2 linked regions of the Homo sapiens genome follow. Changing the gene in region 1 together with any one later gene gives a genetic interaction. Each region holds a gene or a part of one and is shown in the gene's direction. Other genes may lie near its edges.

The links. Genes that interact genetically often act in the same process or in processes that back each other up.
Region 2: changes in SDHB (region 1) and PBRM1 together harm fitness more than expected from each alone (negative genetic interaction), as found in Homo sapiens cells (one large-scale study listed by BioGRID).

Annotation. Positions count from the first base shown.
Region 1 is NC_000001.11:17,016,878-17,021,258, reverse strand, and holds the end of SDHB (succinate dehydrogenase [ubiquinone] iron-sulfur subunit, mitochondrial isoform 1 precursor), read left to right. Parts: intron 1-2,300; coding exon 2,301-2,378; 3' UTR 2,379-2,537; downstream 2,538-4,381. UniProt on the Homo sapiens protein: Iron-sulfur protein (IP) subunit of the succinate dehydrogenase complex (mitochondrial respiratory chain complex II), responsible for transferring electrons from succinate to ubiquinone (coenzyme Q).
Region 2 is NC_000003.12:52,584,101-52,589,575, reverse strand, and holds part of PBRM1 (protein polybromo-1), read left to right. Parts: intron 1-320; coding exon 321-506; intron 507-2,065; coding exon 2,066-2,223; intron 2,224-2,887; coding exon 2,888-3,151; coding exon of another isoform or gene 3,152-3,163; exon of another isoform or gene 3,164-4,395; intron 4,396-5,475. UniProt on the Homo sapiens protein: Involved in transcriptional activation and repression of select genes by chromatin remodeling (alteration of DNA-nucleosome topology). Required for the stability of the SWI/SNF chromatin remodeling complex SWI/SNF-B (PBAF).

The DNA of each region.
Region 1 (4,381 bases):
ATGGCAATCCATTTGTGAGGGCAGAGCCTTCATAATCTAATCACTTCTTAAAGGTCCCACCTCTCAATACTGTTGCATTGGGGATTAGGTTTTCAACACATGAGCTTTTGGGGACACATTCAAACCATAGCAGGTGTCAGCCCTGGTCCAGTCAGCCTTGCCCAGTGGGCAGGGAAGGGCTAGGGCTGTGTGGTTCAGAACACGGCTGCCCTCCGAGCAAAGACTGTGGGTGATTTCACTCAAAAGTTGCAGTGAGTCAGTGGGCGGCAAGGTGGAAAACTGTAGGGTGGCCAGTTAGCCGTAAAAAAAGATCACACTGTGTGTTTGAAAACATGAAATCCAAGCTGTAGAATTCACTTATTTTTTGCCTGGAAACCCTCTGTGTTTCCAGTGGCCTCGCTGGGGGAGCCCACAGGCTTCAGCTCCCTATTGCCTGGGCTTCCATCTGGGTCCTGTCCCCAGGACTGTGGTTTACCATGATTGTGCCTGTGAATAGCTACTGACCTCTGAGGCAAGTTATGCTATAAAAGTGCTTGGAACAGTGCCTGGCACATAGTAAGCACCCAATAAATGTCACCTTATGTTATTTTTTAAAAAAACATGAGTACTGGGCTTGTTTGAGACAGAGATAGCATCTTCAGTGGTGGGGCCTGGCTGTGTGTTTCTTCAGAAGCTCTGCGAGTGACTCTAAGGTGCATTCCTGGTCACAAACCTGTGCATGGAGGGGATGGGTGCAGCAGACAACTGAGACAGCCAAGAACAGGTTCTCTGTGCCTTGCCCTCCCTTCTGTAAAACAGGGCTGGAAGTTGGGACTGAGACATAGACATAGGCCGATCATGAAACTGGAAGGGACTTGAAAACCATCAAGTTTAATCCCCTTATACAGATGGGGAAATTGAGCCCCAGGTGGGGAGGGGAGTGACTCGCCCCAGATCACTGTCAGGTCAGTGGGAAGGTAGGACTAGAGTTAGGCCGTCTGCCTCCCCATCCAGTGCTCTTTCTTCCTGCATGGATTGGGTATGTACCAACCTTCTAAGTCTAAACACCCTTACTGACCCTGTGGGGACCGGAAATACACAGGTAGATCCAGATTCAGAAGGATATACAGTGAAAATTCTCCCTCCCACTCCACCCAGCCACCTCCCTAGAAGTCAGATTCTTGTGTGAACTTCAGAGGTGTTTTATGCTGCACACAAATGCATATGTGTCCTCTTCTGTCTTTCTTATATCACATTTATCTGTATTTTTTCACCCACTATATTTTGGAGATTATCCCATGTTGGTATATGAAGAGTGTCTTTTTGACCAGCCTGGACAACATAGTGAGATCCCATCTCTACAAACAAAATTTTTTTTAATTAGCCAGGTGTGGTGGCACGCACCTGTAGTTTCAGTTACTTGAGAGGCTGAGGCCGGAGGATCACTTGAGCCAGGTGTTCCAGGCCACAGTGAACTATGATCACACTTCAGCCTGGATGACAGAGCAAGACCCTGTCAAAAAAATATATATTTTTTCTTTCTCTTCTTCTCTCAAGATCTCTTTTCTTTCTTTCCTTTTCTTCTTTCTTTCCACAACACTTTTTTAGGGGGGTAGACTTATCCTTCTAAAATGAGGGGAACCTTCACTAACGTCAGATGAGTACTTGTCTCATTTTACCAAGTACTTGCTTGGTAAAAGCAAGTACTTGGTAAAGTACTTCCTACTTTCTACTTCAATGAAGCTGGCATTCAGTGGGTTTAATTATTGTGCCTCCTGCAAAGCAGATGTTAACAGCTGTAGGGGCAAACTGCAGCTAATACCAATGGTATTGGCCAGTTGAAATCATCATGGTTTTACAAAGGGTTAATAGAGAGGGTAGTTTCTTCCACATACTTTTGAGAGCTGGTATATGCTGATTTCTGCTGCTGCCTATTTAATAATGATGATGTAAAAGATTTAGAGATGTCTGGCTGATTTTGACATTGGCCTGTAGTCCTAGAAGAGACACTACCCTGAGTGTCTTTGAGCAGTCAGAGAGTGCACCTCTGCCCTGGGCCTGTTTACCTGTTAGAGTGAGCCACACAAGAAGGAATTCAACGTGGCAGAGCTCTTGCCAGAGGGAGCTGACCATCTTCAAATGTTAAAAAAGGTAGACAGAAGAGAGCCCTTAGCCCAACCCCTATGGTTTTGAGGGACTTGATTTGCATTCACCTTGCTTGGACACTGAACCAGCTGAGGAAGGAGTTTCACCCAAGATTGTGGGTTTTCCCTTTCAGTTTCAGTTATCATTTGTTATTGATTCTTTTCTCTTTTTTCAAGGGTCTGAATCCAGGGAAAGCTATTGCAGAGATCAAGAAAATGATGGCAACCTATAAGGAGAAGAAAGCTTCAGTTTAACTGTTTCCATGCTAAACATGATTTATAACCAGCTCAGAGCTGAACATAATTTATATCTAATTTGAGTTCCTTTAAAGATCTTGGTTTTCCATGAATACAGCATGTATAATAAAAATTTTAAGAAATAAATGTTATTCTACTTTATTAACAAAAAAAAAAGAACCTGTTCCTTTACTTGCCGCAGGGGAATGTGAAGGTGCCAGGAGTCCTTGTCCTTGGAGAGATGGACAGGGCTTCAGAGCTGAGCGGGGGTGGGGGTACCCTAGCTGGAAGGAGGTGATGAGCCGTGGAACTGACATCAGCAGGGCCTGCAGCTTGTTCCCAGCTTTGCCACTCACCAGCTAGACAACCTTGGACAAGTTCCTTCACCTCTTTGCTGCTCCATTCGCCCATCTGTAAGATGGGATCCATAATTGTGCCTACTTCATTCATCTGGTATGAGAATGCCTGGCACTTATTCTGAACACTCAGTTAGTGTTAGTGTTCTGTATCTTCCCAGTTTCTATAGTTTTCAGTACCAGAATTACTGAAAACCAAATCTTGGTAAGTCTTTGGATACGTCGGTGAGGCCAGGTTTGAGATTCCTCCAGCACAGAGCAATGACCCTGGTCAGTTGTGAATCCAGTTAGTTCCACAAATGACCTCGTGGGGCCTCTCACTGCAAACATCAACTCCACAGCACTGCTGCCTTGGCTGGCATGCTCACTGCACAGCCGGGCGTGGTGGCTCACGCCTGTAATCCCAGCACTTTGGGAGGCTGAGGCGGGAGGATCATTTGAGGTGAGGAGTTCAAGACCAGCCTGGCCAACGTGGTGAAACCCCGTCTCTACTAAAAATACAAAAATTAGCTGGGCAGTGGGTGTGCGTGCCTGTAATCCCAGCTACTTGGGAGGCTGAGGCAGGAGAATCACTTGAGCCTGGGAGGTGGAGGTTGCGGTGACCGAGATCACACCGCTGCACTCCAGTGTGAGCAACAGAGTGAGACCCTGTCTCCACAAAACAAAAAAGCAATGCAAAAAAGGAGAAAGGGGGAAAGTAAAAGTGGAAGCTCCTCCAAACTCATCCCGTTGATAGCTTAGACATTTCCTTCCACACTCTACGTTATTACAGTTATGCAGCATATATAAAACTTTCTCCCTTCAAAAGTAAGGTACCATAGAGCCAGGAGCTGTGGCGTGTGCCCCTAATCCAGCTACTCAGGAGGCTGGGGTGGGAGCATCACGTGAGCCCAAGAGGTCGGGGCTATGGTTTGCCATGATTGCGCCTGTGAATAGTTACTGCGCTCCAGCCTGGGCAACATAGTGAGACCCCATTCCTTTAAAAAAAAAAAAAAAAAAAGCCTGGAACAGTGGCTTCTAGCACTTTTGGGAAGCCAAGGTGGGAGGATTGCTTGAGGCCAGGACTTCAAGATCAACCTGGCCAACATAGTGAGACCCTGTCTCTTTTTTTTCTTAACATACCAAAAAAGATTTTAAAAATAAAGGGGTATCCTATAGTCTGCCAGCAGCTATTTTTTTTTTTTTTTTGAGACGGAGTCCCAAAAAAAAAACTGCACTCCGCCTCCCGGGTTCACGCCATTCTCCTGCCTCAGCCTCCCAAGTAGCTGGGCCTACAGGCGCCCGCCACTATGCCTGGCTAATTTTTTTGTATTTTTAGTAGAGACGGGGTTTCACCGTGTTAGCCAGGATGGTCTTGATCTCCTGAACTCGTCATCCGCCCGTCTCAGCCTCCCAAAGTGCTGGGATTACAGGTGTGAGCCACTGCGCCCGGCCTCTATTTTTACCTCACAATGTAGAAGGGATTTCAGTGCTAATAAAGACCTACCTTTTTGTTGTTGTTGTTTTGTTGTGTGTTTTTTTTTTTTTTTTTTTTTTGAGACAGAGTCTCGCTCTGTCGTCCAGGCTGGAGTGTGGTGGCGCGATCTCGGCTCACTGCAGGCTCCGCCTCCTGGGTTCACGTCATTCTCCTGCCTCAGCCTCCAGAGCAGCTGGGACTACAGGGGC
Region 2 (5,475 bases), on another chromosome or scaffold:
GTACTTCTTTGTGCCTTTCGATATTATCCAAAATGTCCATATGATCATATATTAGTAAGGTGATGTTTTTATTCTCTACATCCTTTGTGTAGTTATATATTCATTTAAATTAATGATGGTTGTAATTCAAAGATAGTTTTGAGTAGAGGCTATTAGGAATGTGAAGATCATACTATTGCTGATTCCTGCCTTCGCATGTTGCAAATGGAATTAAATGTATTAAATGTATTATTAGTATGTGTTGTTTGAACCCTACATCTGACTTCAGCATCCCTTTGGTGAGTACCTTTTTCCTTTATTTATTTATTTTTTTACCTAAGAAGCTGAAAAGAGTGAAGATTCCTCTGGTGCTGCAGGCCTCTCAGGCTTACATCGCACATACAGCCAGGACTGTAGCTTTAAAAACAGCATGTACCATGTTGGAGATTACGTCTATGTGGAACCTGCAGAGGCCAACCTACAACCACATATCGTCTGTATTGAAAGACTGTGGGAGGATTCAGCTGGTAAGTTTGTTTTAAATCAAAGGACAGTTTAGTGAGATATGACTGTTTGACTTCTCCTTGCTCCTCAGGGAAGAAAATTTTAACTCAGACATCTTAAGCCTTTCCATAATAATTGTTCAATATGTCAATAAATGTAAGTAAGCACCCATCATATGAAAAACATAGGACCTATTGGGCAAGTGTCACAGTTGAGTCAAAAGAAATACAGCTTCTAGGTCGGGCGCGGTGGCTCACGCCTGTAATCCCAGCACTTTGGGAGGCTGAGGCGGGCAGATCACAAGGTCAGGAAATCGAGACCATCCTGGCTAACACAGTGAAACCCTGTCTCTACTAAAAAGATACAAAAAATGAGCTGGGCCTGGTGGCGGGCGCCTGTAGTCCCAGCTACTCGGGAGGCTGAGGCAGGAGAATGGCGTGAACCCAGGAGGCGGAGCTTGCAAGGGAGCCGAGATCACGCCACTGCACTCCAGCCTGGGTGACAGAGTGAGACTGTCTCAAAAAAAAAAAAAAAAAAAAAGAAAGAAATACAGCTTCTTAAAGTCTGGTTGAGATTCATTCATTCATTTGATACTTATTAAAAACATACTTTGAGCCAAACTTTATGTAGAGTGACATAGATTCAGAAGAACAAAAAGCTCATATTTTCCCTTGCAAAACTACTCCAGTAAGGAAGATTATGATCAAAAAAGAAATTATTATAGAATGACATGCCTTGGCTTAGCATTTGTTTTCAAAAAGGCTTTCTAGAACAGTTGCCTTTAAATTGAGACATGGAGTATGCATAGAAATTAATGAAGCCAGAAGTTGGTGGAAATGTGATCCAGGCAATCCAGTTCTTTGAGCTGCCTATCACATGAAATACTTTTGTATTCCTTCACCAGAGAGCTAAATATGTCCTTCAGTAGCATATCTGTCCCCTTACTAAAGTGCACAACTCTAGGTATGTACTAACCAGAGCAGAGTGGAGCAGGTCTCATCACCTGTCCTCCTCATTATGTACTTTATATGGCTTTTAATATGAAGAAGAGCCTGGGCAACATGGCAAGACCCCTTCTCTAGAAAAAATAAGAAAATCAGCAGGGTGTGATTGCACTTGCTGTGGTCCCAGCAACTTGAGAGGCTGAGGCAGGAGGATCACTTGAGCCCAAGAGGTTGAGGGTGTATATATATATATATGAGGGGGGAAAAGTAGCATGCATTTTTTAGGCCTCATTACACTTTATTATTTTTGAGTATTATTTCTCCTGTGGATAATTATATTAAACTGTAGCTGTAAAAATAAGCACAGTGCTAGGTTCATGTCATGGCAGAGTGGATTGATGGTGTATTTCCTAATTTTGCAAAGAATGTGTGATTTCTGAGCTGGACACAGTGACTTATACTTGTAGTCCCAGCTACTCAGGAGGCTGAGGTTGGAGGACCACTTTGGCCCAGGAATTCAAGTCCAGCCTGGGCAACGTAGTGAGACCCAGTCTCTTTAAAAAAAAAAAAAAAAAAAAGTGATTTCTGTTAACAATGATTCTCTTTCTCTTCCCCTTCCCCCACCCCCCATTTTTGAGGTGAAAAATGGTTGTATGGCTGTTGGTTTTACCGACCAAATGAAACATTCCACCTGGCTACACGAAAATTTCTAGAAAAAGAAGTTTTTAAGAGTGACTATTACAACAAAGTTCCAGTTAGTAAAATTCTAGGCAAGTGTGTGGTCATGTTTGTCAAGGTAAGAAACTCATTAAATCCCAAAGTCTCACTCATTCCCTAGGAATAAAATTTTAAAACACAGAAAATAATCGATGTTTACAAAATTAGGAACTCTGTTTTAAGCTATTTTTTAAGCCGTGTCTATATAGCTATATGAAAAGATTTGGGAAGAAATTAACCTGAACTTCGTTGTGAAAGACCACTTGCTGCTTACACTATTTGGCTATAATGCAGTTAGGTTAAGTTTTTAATATTGCCAGGCTAATTTTTAAGTATGATGTTTTTTTAAGGATAATCATTACAAATTTTCAGTTTGTTTTTTAGGTAATAATGTGTGCTTTTGTGTGTCTGTCTGATACACACACACAAGCCCTCTTCAAAGCTTTAAGGAACATTATAGCTATATGAAATGTTCATATGTTTTCAAAGAGCAATTGTAAGCTAAATGGAATTATTTGTTTTTATAATTTAAAGGGTGTGTATATAATAAGTCCATTCCGTAGCCAAAGAAATACTTCTAAATCTCTGGTCATTTATTATTTTTTGTTAACTGCCAGAAAGTCTGTAATCAGTTCAGCTTTTGTTTGGTTGGTTGGTTATTTGCTTTTTTTTTTTTTTTTTTTGATTGATTTTCAGAAAATTCACCTAACTAGTTTTATTCTTATGCCCTCCCCACCCCCCAGGAATACTTTAAGTTATGCCCAGAAAACTTCCGAGATGAGGATGTTTTTGTCTGTGAATCACGGTATTCTGCCAAAACCAAATCTTTTAAGAAAATTAAACTGTGGACCATGCCCATCAGCTCAGTCAGGTTTGTCCCTCGGGATGTGCCTCTGCCTGTGGTTCGCGTGGCCTCTGTATTTGCAAATGCAGATAAAGGTGATGATGAGAAGAATACAGACAACTCAGAGGACAGTCGAGCTGAAGACAATTTTAACTTGGAAAAGGTATGCAGATAATAGCCACACAGAAAAAATTTTACATCTCAAAACACCTATTCCAGAAAATAAATGAATAAAGTATTCAAACTTAGAAAAAGAGCAACAACACAAAACCTTAGCCAAACAGGAAGAAGGAAACTATAACAGAAAGAAATTTACACTTTCAAAACTGTACATTATAATTTAAAAGTAAATCAGGCCAAGTGCATTGGTTCACGCCTGTAATCCCAGCATTTTGGGAGGCCAAGGCGGGCAGATCACGAGATCAGGAGTTCGAGACCAGCCTGACCAACATGGTGAAACCTCATCTCTACTAAAAATACAAAAATTAGCTGGGTGTGGTGGCGCGTGCCTGTAATTCCAGCTACCCAGGAGGCTGAGGCAGGAGAATGGCGTGAACCTGGGAGGCGGAGGCTGCAGTGAGCTGAGACCACGCCACTCTACTCCAGCCTGGGCAACAGAGTGAGTCTCTGTCTCAAAAAAACAAAAAATTTTTTTAAAGTAAATCTAAGAGCTAATTATTTGACAAGTCCAATTAGATAAACTGCCAACTATCTAATAATGGGAAAAGAAAGGGGTTAAACTTCGACACAAAATGTGGAAGAAGGCCAGGCGCGGTGGCTCACACCTGTAATCCCAGCACTTTGGGAGGCCAAGATGGGTGGATTACCTGAGGTCAGGAGTTCGAGACCAGCCTGGCCAACGTGGTGAAACCCTGTCTCTACTAAAAATACAAAAAATTAGCTGGGTGAGGTGGTGGGTGCCTGTAATCCCAACGGGAGGCTGAGGCAGGAGAATCGCTTGAACCCAGGAGGCAGAGGTTGCAGTGAGCCGAGATCGTGCTATTGCAGTCCAGCCTGGGCAACAAGAGCGAAACTCTGTCTCAAAAAATAAATAAATAAATAAATGTGGAAGAAATGTAAAGACTGTATATTTCTGCTAATAAATTTGAAAACCTAAATAAAATGGCTAATTGTCTAGGATATTACAAATTACCAAAATGGAATCAAGAAGAGATATAATACAGAATGTACAACAACATGAAGAAATTTTTTAAAGTATCATAGAACTGACCCCAAAGAGTACTGAGGTCAGACAGTTCCATAGGTGACTTTTTCTTTAAGGGACCTATGATTATTATACTGTTGAAGCTGTTTCAGAGCAGGGAGAACAAGAAATTTCCAGTTTGTTTTGCAAAGCCAAGATAATCTTGATTTCACAACCTGAAAAATAAAAACAAAAAACTGCAACTCAGTCTTATTCATGTATATTGATGCAAAAATTACTTGGGGGAAAAAGTAAGTGAAATCAAATTACTTCTTTGAGAACAACATGACCAAGAAGTGGGAATTCATTCTAAGAAAGCAAGAATTGTTCAAAGTTAGGGAGATCTTTAAATTTCATTCATTATTCCATTAGATCAAAGGAAAGATTATTTGGTAGAGAACCCATCTTGATTTTTTTTAAGACTTTCAATAGGTATTTCTTCTAGTGTAATTTTTTTTTAAATTCATATTTGTGTCTCAAGCCTGAAGCCTATAAAACAAATTCCTTTTTAAATTTACACACTGGACAAAGGGGCTTACTGTTCTAGTGTTACTTAATATTTTTTGAAATTAGCCAATGTAGTTAGATAAACAAAAGCAGTAAAAATATTGACAATAAAGAAGCAAGATGGCAGGCGTGTTGGCTCATACCTGTAATCCTAGAACTTTGGGAGGCCAGGGCAGGTGGATCGCTTGAGTCCAGGATTTTGAGACTAGCCTGGGAATCATGGTGAAACCCCATCTCTACAAAAAGTACAAAAATTAGCCAGGCATGGTAGCACATGCCTGTAGACCCAACCACTTGGATGGCTGAGATGGGGGTATCCCATGAGCCCAGGAGGTAGAGGCTGCAGTAAATTGTGATTGCACCACTGCACTCTAGCCTGGTCAACAGAGCAAGACCGTCTCAAAAAAAAAAAAAAAAAAAAAAAAAGCAAGAATACTTTTCTGCAGATAATTGGGGGAAATTAACTGAAAAGGTTGGAAACAGAAAATTTAGCAAATAGAAATTTCAAAATCCATATGTAAATGAATAGTCTTCATATATAAACTAGTAAGACTTTTGAAAGTAAAGTGAAAGTGTTGAATACACTTTAGCAACTGTTAGAAAAATCTTATGGGAGAAAATATCCATTTCACACTAACAACAAATTAAGAAATAACCTTAACAAGGAATATATAGAACCTCTAGGAAAAAAATTTACTGAAGGACATAAAAGACTTGCATAGATTGTTTTTGAAACTTGACAAAATTATTCTAGCATTCTTATTAAGAATAAATAT